Linked DNA regions of Homo sapiens: all the other regions are linked to region 3. Evidence: fine-mapped expression QTL. A gene starts in region 3. Each other region holds a variant in brackets. All regions are shown on one strand. Distances are from middle to middle.

Region 1 (4,168 bases), 130 kb before region 3:
TACCAGATCATTTATAACCTTATTGGATTTCAAAGAATCTAAGTAGATTACTTTCATGAACTCATCTATTGCATAATGCAAGTCCCACATGTAAAGTGATTGTGTTTTGGTGTTCACTTACCCAAAACCAGGAGTATGTATTTCTTAGTTAAATATGTGATCAGATCGAGATATGTAAAAAGGCATACCTATGCTGGCTCACCAAAACCCAAAGCTAAGAAGGAGCTGGCAGGGTCTGGAGGCTACTTGTTTAATGGCCACAGAGTTTTCCTTTGGGGTAATGGAAAAGTCTTGGCAACAGATAATGGTGATGTTTGTACCACATTGTGAGTGTGATGAATGCTGCTGAACTGTACACTGAAAATGGCTAAAACGGAAAATTTTGTGCTCTACATATTTTATCCCAGTAAAATAGAAAGGAAAAAGGGAGTCTGCGCCTGTGTGAGAGCCGTCAGCATGAGCTCCAGATTACGGGATGCATGGCAGTCAGTGGCTGCCACCTGTGGGTTTATGGACCATGGGGAGAGCTTCTTAGACTTCATTTCAGTCTTGATTTGGGGACCTGTTCACTCATTCCTGCCAGCTCCATTATAGCAATTCCCACCTATTCAAATATATGGAACTCTGGTGAAGACATGGGTTCTTTCCCCAAAATGGTACATAGCAAAGAACTTGCTTGGCCTTGGAGGGAATTCTTGGCAGCATAATTTGCAGCCGGAATTAAAATCAGCTGACTCTGGCCAAGCATTAATATTCAGCGAGCGACTGGATGAATAAGAGATGAATGAAGCCAAGAAACACCCAAACTGTTCCAGTGACGTTTTACTTTTTCAATGGCCCTGAGGAGAAGGTAGCCAGCAGTCCTGCCAGCTGCCACCTTAGAATGGGAGGCATGGCAGGGGATTCCAGGCCCCAAGGCACAGTGTAGACACCAAGGAAAGGAGAGACGCGGTGGCCGAGGACGGCAGCAGCCAGGGCAGGCCTTCCACAGCCACCCCATCTCCACCCACCCTCCATAAATGGCCTCTGAACCCCAACAGCAAGGCTCACAAACACACTTCTCTCCTACCAGGTGGATTGCTATTTGCCCCAATGCTTTTTTTTAAATACCCTTTGCAATCACTGTTGTAATTTGTAATTTAAATGTTACATAAGCCACTGAAATATGAATGCAACAACAACAAAAAAAAAGAATGAATTGTTTTTTTCTGTGAAAATTAAATTGGGTATTTTGGAATGACCAGACAAAATCAAATTGCTTTTAAAAATACACGAGCGTAAATTATTGAGGAAAATCATTGAAGCCTAAGACGACATTCAGATTGTTTGACACATGGTTTTAGTTCATTGTTTCACTTTGAGGAACCTTAAAAGACGCATCTTAGATAGGTGGTGTTTATACAAGAAAGAAGACCCCATAAGCCAGTCAGCAGCCCGAAACTCAAAGAAAAGACTTTGGCATTGAGAGGCTGAGGCAAGAGGATCATTTCAGGCCAGGAGTTCAATTCCAGCCTGGTCAACATAATGAGGCCTCATCTCTACAAATCATTTTTTTAATTAGCCAGACATGGTAGTGTGCTTGTAGTCCCAGCTACTAGGGAGGCTGACGTGGGAAAATCACTTGAGTCCAGGAGTTCGAAGCTGCAGTGAGCTATGATCACACTACTGTACTCCAACATGGGAGATAGAGAAAGAACCCATCAAAAGACATTGGACTTACAGCAAAATATGTATGTGTTTTACGTTAAAATGTTTCTGGTGTAGATGTGTATTTTTTTGATACTCTAACACACGGACCAGGATCCCA[A/G]TCCCAGGATCACAAACCAGAGGCCATCTGTGACAGCAGGGGGACATGAGGGGAGGGGAGGGAAGGGGAGGGGAGGGGAGAGGAAGGGAGGAGAGTGGAGCCGTCCAGGGCCCTCCTGACCCTCGGTTTTGACTATAAATAACTTGCTGACTCCAAGGTGTTCCATGGAGGTTAATGGAGGTTGCTATCAAGGTAGAATAGTCAGGGGCACGTGGACAAATGCCCCATAGAAGCATTAGAGGACAAGGGGCCAGATCCAGCTGCTGTGATGCTGAGAACAGGGACAGAGAAGGGACTGGGATGGACAGGAGTGTAACGGGAGAGAAGCATGAACGGGCAGCTTTCTGAGCAATGCCTAGCCACTCATCTACAGAATCCTCACTTAGCTATCTCCTGGATGGGTGTGTGTTCTCTGTTTTTCCATCCAGCCTCAAAAATGAGGCTTCTCCAGGTGCACAGAGGCACCCAGAGCAGCAGAGATGTCCCCAATCACTCCACAAGAGCCTAGGGAAGAGGGTGGCCTGAGTCTGGCCCGGAGCCAGCTGTTAGGTCAGGTCCCTGAGCTCTGGGCAGTAATGCCCAGGGGATGGAGCTTATGTCGAGCCCCAGAGCCCTCCCTGCCTCCCCAAGCTCATGACAAGAGAAGAAATGACTGAGCCTCTTCCTTACTCAGATTTCTTCTACCACAGAATACTGCTTGTGGTACCTGGGCTAAGGCACTCAGTGTCTCTGCTGTGTTTTGCTCACTGGTAAAATGAGGTCGCAGTAACACCTTGTTCCTGGGCATGGCTAGGGTTTCATGGTGGTGCTGGGGGACAGACTTGCACATGCCAAGTTGCACAGTCACAGATATAGAGCACGTGAGGCACATGCGTGCACACGTGGACACAGGTCCCCAGCATGTCTGTGTCGCACCCCTGCACGCCGTCCCACCCTGCTGGGCTTTCTTCCGCTGGCTCTGCTGTGGTCCTCTCGCTACTCCTGCACGGACTCAGAATCAACAACTCCATCTTCAGACTCATTTTTTCTCTTCATATTTATACCAAAAAAAAAATCTCATAGGCCACGTTACTTTTAACCTAATCCAGTCAAGCTCATCCGTGTGTGGATCTACGGCATCCATCTCTCTACTCTTTTGTTTTGGCCAAAGAGGAAAGATTTGGACAAAAAAAAGAGAGAAGGACAGGCCATCGGTAGGAGCCAGTATTTGTGTCCTGGGGCTGCCGTAACAAAGTGCCACAGCCCAGGAGGCTTGAACAGCAGAAATGTGTCCCCTCTCAGCTCTGGAGGCCGCAGACTGAGGTCCAGGTGTGGGCAGAGCCAGCTCCTCCTGAGGCTGTGGGGGACTCGGTTCCAACCTCTCTCCTGCTTCTGTGGTTCGCTGCAACCGGAGATGTTCTCCTTGCCTGGCCCATGCATGATCGCAGCTTCAGCCTTGGTCTTCTCCTGGCGTTCTCCCTGCGTGGTGCGTGGGTCCCGATTTTTACCCTCCATAAGGACATGGTTTTATGGGATTGGGCCACCTACTCCACTGTGACCTCATCTTAACGAATTACATCTGTGAAGACTGATTCGCACTAAGGAATGTGGTTACATTCACTAATTTTGGGGGGACACACAATTCAGCCTGTAAAAACGCAGAAAACACTTTGTACATAAATGATGAATTTCACAAACAAAGGTACCGGAAAGAATCGCCACATCCTAGGCTCTCCAGCACCTTTGAGCAGCGCTGAGCAAAGTGGGTGGAGCCCAGGACTTGTCCCTGACGCTTGCTGGCAGCGAGTAGGGCTCCGACTTTCTGCTTTATCATGAAATATCTGGTGGTTTGTCACCACGTTTCCTCTGAAATGAACTGGTACACTTGCTCTATTTCTGACTAAGGGAATCAGCTTTGTGTGTGGTCTCAGTAGAAAAGGACAATTGGACAAAAGTAGGAATGAGGCAGCAGTAGCCACACAGACCCCAGGTCACCCAGAGAACAGGGCAGAGCTTGAAAACTTGGTCAGTGACTTCGAAGTCTGCATCTAGTGTAGATGCTCGAGCTGGGATCCCCCACCCCAGGGAATCCTCAAGGCAGCTTTCCCGCAGTCTCAGATGCAGGGCTGGCCTCACCCAGGAAGCCAGAGCCCTTCCCAAGGGCTTCTAACCCACATCCAAGGTGAGAATCACCGCTGTGGGGGTAGAGGGCAGGTGCCCATACATGCCTGGCTCCAAATGACAAAATTCAGGAGGTGAGTGAGGCTTCTCAGGGAAGAGTCTGCCTGCCCTCTGGCAGCAACTAAAGATCAGGACCCACCTGACACTTCAGGGCTTCCACATCCCCATCTTGTTTTACCTTCCTTCCTTCACTGGCAGCCC
Region 2 (4,168 bases), 130 kb before region 3:
AACTGTTTCTGCCCGTTGGCAAGAGTGTCTAAAAATGTTTTACCAGAAGAAAACCAATATTCAAAATGTGCTTTTACATCAAATGGACAAGGGAAGTTGAAGTTTACAGTTTATAAACAGCAGGGCCCTTTTTTGACAAATGCAGTGAAGTTGTTTCACTAAAGAAATACTTAGCCAGGCGTGGTGGTATGCACCTGTAATCCCAGCTACTCGGGAGATTGAGGCAGGAGAATGGCTTGAACCCAGGAGGCAGAGGTTGTGGTAAGCCGAGATTGCGCCATCGTACCCCAGCCTAGGCAACAAGAGCGAAACTGTCTAAAAAAAAAAAAAAAAAAAAAAAAAACTTAGGCTCTGAGCTGAAAGATTAAACCAGAAAGCATTGCCCACCTGCAGGGGAATGCAGAATCCAGCTGCCCCAGGTGGATCCACTGCAGGACCTTCAGAATGAGAGATTCTAGGGCCAGAGAGAAAGCCTCATGCCTGCCTCGGTAACAACAGAACTTCCTCCAGCTGTCAGGGGCTGGCCTGGGAGGCTGCAGGAACCCACCCCCAGCTCCTGCGCACAGTGCACAGAGGCCGTCATGAAGTTTGCTGAAACTCGTGGAAGCTGCTGTTATCGGGGGAGACTAGTGTCCTCTCACTGAAAGATTCTGGAAATCGTCAGGTTCAGGACGCACCGTCCACCTGGAGCGTGAGTGGCAGGGATGTTCCAGGCAGTGCTTCCCAGGAGAACCTTCTAGAAGCCTTTCCAGCCCCTGACTAGGGTTGATGGACAAAGAGGAGAAAGTGGGGGATGAGCCTTCAACAAACTGACTCTGCTGGGGCTTCCGCTGACTTCAGTTTTCCCTCTCCAGAACCGGGGATGGCTGGCTGCAGCGTGGCCTCACTGCCTACACACCATTCAGCCCCTGTCTGCCTTTTTGTTTACACTGAGAACACAATAGGAGCTATGGTCCTTCCAATACATCATTTATAAGTGTGTCCTACCTCTGAATGCGCAGGCAGAACTGGCTGTGGGTGAATAAGCTCTGTGAATCTTGCCAAGACACTGCTTTGTTCAGCATTATTCTTCACAATAGATACCACACTTTGGAAGTAATTTTAAAAAGGGAATCAAAATAGTGGTACTTTTAGCCTTTGTTTCTTTTATACCACACTGCATTCTCTGTCTCTCATTCAGCCGCTCCCATTATTCTGACAAATTAAATAAACCACTCCATTGCAGAAAAGCGTGGGCAGGCAGGACTTCACTCCACTGCAGCCCCGGGAAGTCGAAATAAACATTGAGGTGGGTTCTGCTATAGCCATTTCGTCTAACTTAAGGAGGGGAAAAAATGGAGGGGGGAGACTTCGGAACTTGAGTGGGTCAGTAGCCCCCGAGAGCCGGCCTCTGCAGCAGGTCGCGACCACGGCGTGGAGGGCAGCGGTTTCCAGGAGCGCTAGGAAGTCCTTCCTGCGGTGTGGCCCTGGGAGCCCGGACGGTAAGTCACAGGAGGTTGGGGCACCGCAGAGGTGGGCAGCAGACTGCGCTGACGCCTGGGGCTCTGTTCCTGCAAGCAGCTTGGCTCTTCTCTCCTTTTTAAAAAGGCCTTCTTACAGGTGTTGAACCGCTGCCTAAAGAGGGAGTGACTC[CAGG/C]AGGAGGAGGACTTCTCTCTCCCTCTCTCTCTCTGTCTCTGACTCTCTGTCTCTTTTAAGCTCGACTTTGAGAAGTTTTTGACTTGTGCAATCACAATCTATTTATGAAATTCAGGCAAGGAGAGGACTGAAGAGGAGGAAGAAGAGACGGACAGGATTTTAGAGTGGGGTATTGCCTTCGGTTTTCTTAAGGTCCAGGATGTGTTACAAAACTGATGGGTGACACCCTTCTAACTTTTGGCCTTAAAGCATTTTTCTTTGTACAGGAGAAAAAACAAAAAGTGTGTGTTTGCAAAGGAATCTCTGTTAGATTAATGACTGATTTGAACTAGAATATACATGGAAGTCATTTTAGTTACAACTGCCTCTGTCCTCGTTTGTCGGGTGTGAAACGTGGGGTAGCCGTTTCTCTGAGAGTAGCTCCGTCTGGATTTGGAGAAATCCTCCTGACTGTTGTGAAAATCGTCTCCCATCGGCTGTGCCGGGACCCTCCCCTCCTTCCGTTCCTTTTCCCGCACCCTCTCTTAGCAGAACAGGTGGAGCGGGTGGAAAGGACAGCGGCGAGAGCGCGTGTGGTCAGGGGTCTCGGAGGCAGCCTGATTTCCTTATGAAAACAGAGCTCTGGTAAATGCCAGTTATGGGGAGGGCTTTGAAGGCTGCAGCCACCAGCTAAGATGGCCTCATCTAAAATGCAGGCGTCTGCGGCATGGAGGGGGCTCTGTGTTCCAACAGAGGCGTCCCCTGGCTTCGGAGTCAGAGGGCACTACAGGCACAGGGAAATATTGAGCCACAGTAGTTTGAACAGAACCATCAGGGTTCATCTTTTATTACCAAAGAAAGACTTGAAAAAGCCCAGGTGAAATTTTCTTCCATTGTCTAGGAAAATTCTCTGTAATTTGCCCCCTGGGAAATCCAAGTGCCTTGTGGCCGGGGCCCCCGCCCCACTCCCCTCTGTCCATCTCTCTCCTCCTCTCTCTGCGTAAATGTCTCCGGGGTCCCTGGAGAACCCAGGGGGCTGAGCAGGGGACGCTGAAGGTCAGGGTTGCCCACTGTGGCCTGACTTTTAAGCTAAAGAGGTTTTTCTTTCTCTTGTTGCCCTGTCAGGTCTAATTTGGCGGCATTATGCTGAGAGGGCGGGCCTGCTCCTGACAGGAGGGGGTTAAATGAGATTGCAAGCTTTGGAGGCTGTCAGCAGCCACTGCTGCCCGGGGATGTTAAATTGCGATTTAATGGTCAGCTTTATCTGGATGGTATCAGTGCAAATCTGCTGTTTTCAGCAACTTAATTGGCACAGTGTTTGCAGGAGTTTTTCGGGGAGGTAGGAGAGCTGACCAGATTTTAATGCTGAATTATTTAGAGATCAAACTGGCAGAATGTCAGTGGGAATCTGTCGCGTGTTTGGTTTTCTGAAGCACAGAAAGCTTATGAATGGGCAAGATGCTGAATTCCGCTGTGATGCCCGAAACTTTCTAAAAATATTCACAGGGTCTGATGCAGCTCCGAGTTTATTTATAGAGGGAATAAACAAAGAGTAACAGTTGCTATCACAACATATGTGCAGTGTCTGATTTGTGAGGGGGCAGCAAGAACGTAGAGGCAGCCGCTCTCAACAGAGCCAGTGTGGGCTGTCTTTTCAAAATTTTAACAGATGGGCGCCGCCTGTGGAGCTGCGTGTTCCCGGGGTGACTCACAGGTGACCCCACACTACACAGGACTGACGGTGCCTGCTTGTGTGTGCGTAAGGCATACACGGGTGCACGCCTGTTTGTGCGCTAGGTGTGTGCACAAGTGTTCATGGATGTGTGCATATGTGTACACGTGCGTGGGTATCCATGTGAGTGTGTGTACACAGATGTGGGTGTCGTGTACACATGTGCAGAGTATAAGTGTGTGTGCACATGCGTATACGTGTGTGGGTATGCATGTGTGTGTACACAGATGTGTCGTGTACATGTGTGGGAGTATGTATGAAAGTGTGTGTACACAGATGCGGGTGTCGTGTACACATGTGTAAAGTATGAGTGTATATGCACATGTGTACACGTGTGTGGTATGCGTGTGTGTACACAGATGTGGGTGTCATGTACATGTGTGTATGTAAGTGTGCATACACAGATGTGGGTGTCAGGTACATGTGTGCAGGTATGTATGTGTAGACAGATGTGGGTGTTGTGTACACATGTGTAAAGTATGACTGTGTGCACATATGTACATGTGTGTGGGCATGTATGTACACAGATATGGGTGTCTTGTACATGTGTGCAGGTATGCATGCAAGAGTATGTACACAGATGTGGATGTCATGTACACACGTGTAGTGTGTGCACATGTGTACATATGTGCAGATATGTGTGCGTACATAGATGTGGGTGTTGTGTACATGTGTGCAGTTATATGTGAGTGTGTACACAGATGTGTACATGTGTGCAGGCGTGTGTACATGTGTGTAGAGTATGACTGCACATGTGTATGTGTGTGGGTATGTGTGCCTATGTGTACACAGATGTGGGTGTCATGTACATGTGTGTGGGTG
Region 3 (4,168 bases):
CACCTTTCCCATTGGTCCCCTCTCCTGTCCGAGTGGCAGCGCGGCCCCGCAGGGAGCGACCCCGGGAGGGACAGTGACCGCACGCGTGGAGTGGGGACGGCGGGGCACAGGACGGTAGTCTAAGAGTGTTCGCATGGCCGAGGACGCTTTCGCTGCGAGTTTGGGGTCGAGGGGCAGTTCCCTCCCGGAGTCATTAACTTCGTCTCCTCGTGCTCAGGGACCAGCAACTTGGTGCTGCGGGCGCCAGAAAGAAAAGGGTAGCGCCTCGCGGAGCGCGCGGGGGAAGAGGGACTGCGGCAGCGGGACGCGAGGGCGGGAGGGGCGCAGCAGCGGGGAGCCGGAGCGCAGCGGAGGGGAGCGCTGGGGGGCGGGGAGCGCTCGGGCAGCCACCCTGTCCCCGTCTGGAGCCCCGCGCTGCGTCTAGGAGGGCGCAACACGCAGTCCCCGCGGGGGCCAGAGCTCGGAGCCCCCTAGTGCATGCCCCCTCTCCTCGCGCCCTGCCGAGGCCTCGGCCCTGCCTGCCGTGCCCTGGGCCTGGTTGTGCCCGGGGGTCCCCGCGGGCAGGGCGCGGGGCAGGCAGGGCGCGCGCGCCGACGCTCTTTTGTCTGATAACTAATTTGAGTTAATGCGATCTTTATGTAAAGCTAACAGCGGATAATTGTCTATTTTCTCGCCAACAGTCTCCATCACAATCACTTATCTGGAAACCTGCGGTTGGATTAATCGTTATATTCCCGAGATGAGCGTCGCTGCAATCCGCAGCGAACGCGGGTAGGGACCTGGAGACGCCTCCCGGGCGCTGGCGGGGCCGGTGTGGGCCAGCTCCGCTACCGCCTGAGACGCGGTGTGCCCAGGTGTTGGTGCCCGCGGGAGAGGGCTGTGGGGCGCCTTCCCCAGGATTTGCTTGACTTGCTTTTCGCTCGAGTGGGTGGTGCGCGGGTGCGGGAGGCGGAGGGAGGAGGAGGGGTGAGGGGAGGAGGGCCTGTGGGGCTGCGGACCCGGAGCAGCCTGGGTGGAGCGCGGCCTCGGGAGGCCCTGGGTGCATCGCGGCGGGGCCTGGGGGGGCCCAGGCGCCGGAGGAGCCGTCGGTGCCGGAATGCAGCGTGTTTCACTTGGGAGAAACGTTGCCCTCGGTCCCTTGCCTCCCTCCTGTTGTCTCGGTTTTTCTGGCTTCGTCCTTCGTCCCACCCACCCGTTCCCACCTCAGGTCCCTCCCCCAGGATCCCCTCCTTAAGGATCCAGGTCTCTGAAAATTATTGGCAACAGTTACACGCCCCACGATTGAAATCCACAAGAGAAGAGTCCCAGTTCTGCAGGCCGCTCCAGGGCTAGGGGTAGAGATGGTGGCAGGTGGTGCGTCAACTCTCTAGGGAAGAGGAACTTGCATTACAAAGACTTGTCTTTCTGAGCTGAAGTCAAAACGGGGGCGTCAAGCGCGCTCCGTTTGGCGGCGGTGGAGGGGCCGCGCGCCCGCGCTGTCCCAGCCGGAGCTGCCCTGGCTGGTGATTGGAGGTTTAACGTCCGGAATTCAGGCGCTTCTGCAGCTCAGATTTGCCGGCCAAGGGGCCTCAGTTGCAACTTTTCAAAATGGTGTTTCTGGAAAATAACAAATTCAGACTCAACTGGTGACAGCTTTTGGCTATAGAGAATGAAACTGCTTCCCTTTGGCGGTGGAACTCTTAAACTTCGAAGAGTGAAAGAATACAATGAAATAAAATGCCATAAGATCACTGGATTTTTCAGAAAAAGGAAGACCCCAAATTACTCCCAAAATGAGGCTTTGTAAATTCTTGTTAAAAATCTTTAAATCTCGAATTTCCCCCTACAACATCTGATGAGTGCTTTAAGAGCAAACGAGCAAATCCCACCTCGAGAATCAACAAACCCAAGCTCTGGCCAAGGCTCTCCCCGCGTTTTCTTCTCGTGACCTGGGGAATGTCCCGCCCCATCGCTCACCTGGCTCTTGTCATCTCGCTCATCTTGAAGTGACCCGTGGACAATGCTGCTCCCTGCCGCAGCTCCGCCGGTCACTCAGGCAGAACGGGGTATGCAAATGGCCTGGAGAGGCCGAGGCCGAACACTGCGCCCATTGTCCCGGGCGCTCAAAGCGCCGAGCAGCTGCGCAGACTTTCTGGGCTCGGACCCTCGGCCGCCACGCTAATGTCATCATTGCAAAACATCAGATTTTGAGAACTATGCAGTCTGAATTCATTAGCAGCCTTCTCGGCGAAGGTTCTTTTCCCCGTGACAAGTTTCAAAGTCCAGACCCCCTCCAACGTTGGTAGGGGTAGGAAGAGGAGGAGGGGCCCAGGGAGGGGGGTCTTTCGCAAGTGGGGCCTCGGGGGATCCCTGCTCTCCTTCTGGTGCATTCCGCAACTTTAAAAGCCTTCCTTGGGGTTCTGAGCGCGGATGTCTGACTTGAATGACCTGAGATTTGGACATATTCCCGTTTTCTCCCAAGAGTTGCTTTAATGTTGCGAGTTTAAATTCACTGAAAGAGGCCCAGATACCAAGTCGAGTGAATTTCATAGACATCATCTTCTGTTTTAATGATCGCGGCAGTGATCGTTTCTGAAGTCATACCCTTTAGGGTGAACTCACAACAATGCATGTCAGAGAGGCTGCGCGCCCTAAAGCAAAACAGTTAAAACATCAGGCCACGCTCCTCAAACTGCAGGATTGCAAGCAGCTCACAAACTTCCAGTCCCCACCCCAAGGTGAGGAGAGTCTCAGTGACTTGAGGACCTGCTTGCACTCCCGCTTTCCACGCCCGGTCCCCTACCCGCACCTGCCCAAGTGGTCTCGTTCCTCTAGAATCTGAATGGTGGGGAGGGGTGCTCCTGATGCCCCGGGTGCAGGGCGGGCACCAGCGAGCGAGACCCAAGGGCGCTAGAACCCAGGAGCGCAAACCACCGTTAGGGCCTGAGGGACGCAGAGGCGGGTGGAGTAGTGTTTCTCAGATTCGTGGGAGGCCGCAGGCGCCAGCAGAGGCAATTTTCCTCCCCTGAGCAATGCTAGTTCTCCTCAGGCCCAGGATCTCCACTAACGTGTCCTTCCACCTCCTCACAGGACTCCAAGCTGCTGTCCCCTCTCTGCCGCATCTGAGGCTGGGAAAACTTCCTAGGAGAAGGCAAGAGAAAGCCACCAGACCAGAGCCGAGGACTAAACTTTAAGGTCGAAGACGGCAGAGGGGCAGGTTCTCCCCTGCACACCCCAAGGCCTCTCCTGCACCCGCGAGGCCTTCCTTGAGCGCCCAGGCCCCCGAAATGCCTGCCCTCCTTCTGACAAAAGGAGGGGGTAGGATGTGAAGGGGTAGTGCAACCAACAATGTTTTTGTAAACACAACAACAGGGAAATACATGGAGGAAATCTATTTATTGGGTGTGTCATTTTTGGTGGGGGGCGGGATTGAAAGTGGCGCCATCTAGACCCAGGAAAAAGCTACGGGGTGGGCGGGGTAAGCGGGGGACTCTTGGTAAATGTGGATAATTTTGAACTGGGACACCATTTTGTTTCCTTCCTAGAGCATTGTATGATGTGGCCTGAAGGCTCTGGAAAGTCACAGATCACACCCAGCAGGAGGTTCTTCATGTGTGCCAGCCCCTGGCTGGGCCTGGGCAGCCTTGCCCCCATCCTCTGGCCCCAGCTCCTGCCACCCCACCTGCAGACAAGGCTGCCAAAGGCTAGGGACAGGGCTCCAAGCTAGAGGCCGGCTTTTTGGAGATGTGGCTGTGGGAGGGGAATCCCAGGAAGTTGCATAGAGAGGGAGTTTTTGCCAGCCTGGGTCACTGATGGCCAGTCCGGGTCACTGATGTCTCCCCAGGGGCAAGGGGACAGTGCCTGGCTAATTGTGGGTTTCAAAATCTGTCTGTTGAGGGGATGCAGAGGTCATCATTGGGGGGTGAAGCTGATGGTCCACAGAAGCTCTGGGCACAGGTTGGACCTCTTTCCTGCACAAAGAACCCTCCAGGGTGCCCAGTGGTTCTGGCCAGCGCCGGAGCCAGTGACGGTTGGCTTGTTCTGGCCTTCCTCCCCTTCTCACACATGCATTCTCTTGCACACGTGTCACACACATTCCTACACACTCACACAAATTCTCACACAAATTCCCAGAATCAATCTCCCACATACACATCCAAGTCACACACTCATTCTTACATGCGATTCA

Direction of the effects. Positions count from the first base shown, and alleles are read on the strand shown. Sizes are in standard deviations (SD) of each study's normalised expression. Not every link is listed here.
For the expression in amygdala of the gene that starts at base 1,987 in region 3, allele A in region 1 goes with a higher level than allele G (small effect, 0.28 SD a copy in GTEx).

The links. PIP is the estimated chance that this variant, and not a neighbour inherited with it, causes the effect.
Region 1: its variant is the best candidate, but not a certain one, in a credible set for the expression of LINC00404 in amygdala (GTEx, PIP 0.60).
Region 2: its variant is the best candidate, but not a certain one, in a credible set for the expression of LINC00404 in tibial nerve (GTEx, PIP 0.72).

What each region holds. Positions count from the first base shown.
Region 1 is chr13:111,978,043-111,982,210 of GRCh38, forward strand. All of the region lies in intron 1 of SOX1-OT (SOX1 overlapping transcript), which reads left to right. Among named protein-coding and RNA genes, the nearest start is that of SOX1-OT, 7.8 kb to the left of the region's middle. The variant A/G (reference allele first, on the strand shown) is at 1,808.
Region 2 is chr13:111,971,106-111,975,273 of GRCh38, forward strand. SOX1-OT (SOX1 overlapping transcript) reads left to right here and starts at 1,205. Exons shown (of 4, transcript NR_120392.1): 1 at 1,205-1,288. The variant CAGG/C (reference allele first, on the strand shown) is at 1,633.
Region 3 is chr13:112,104,643-112,108,810 of GRCh38, forward strand. It overlaps LINC00404 (long intergenic non-protein coding RNA 404), which reads right to left and starts at 1,987. Exons shown (of 2, transcript NR_047014.1): 1 at 1,957-1,987; 2 at 1,453-1,596. SOX1-OT (SOX1 overlapping transcript) reads left to right here. Exons shown (of 4, transcript NR_120392.1): 4 at 3,070-3,373. RefSeq lists enhancers at 1,517-2,136, 2,757-3,375.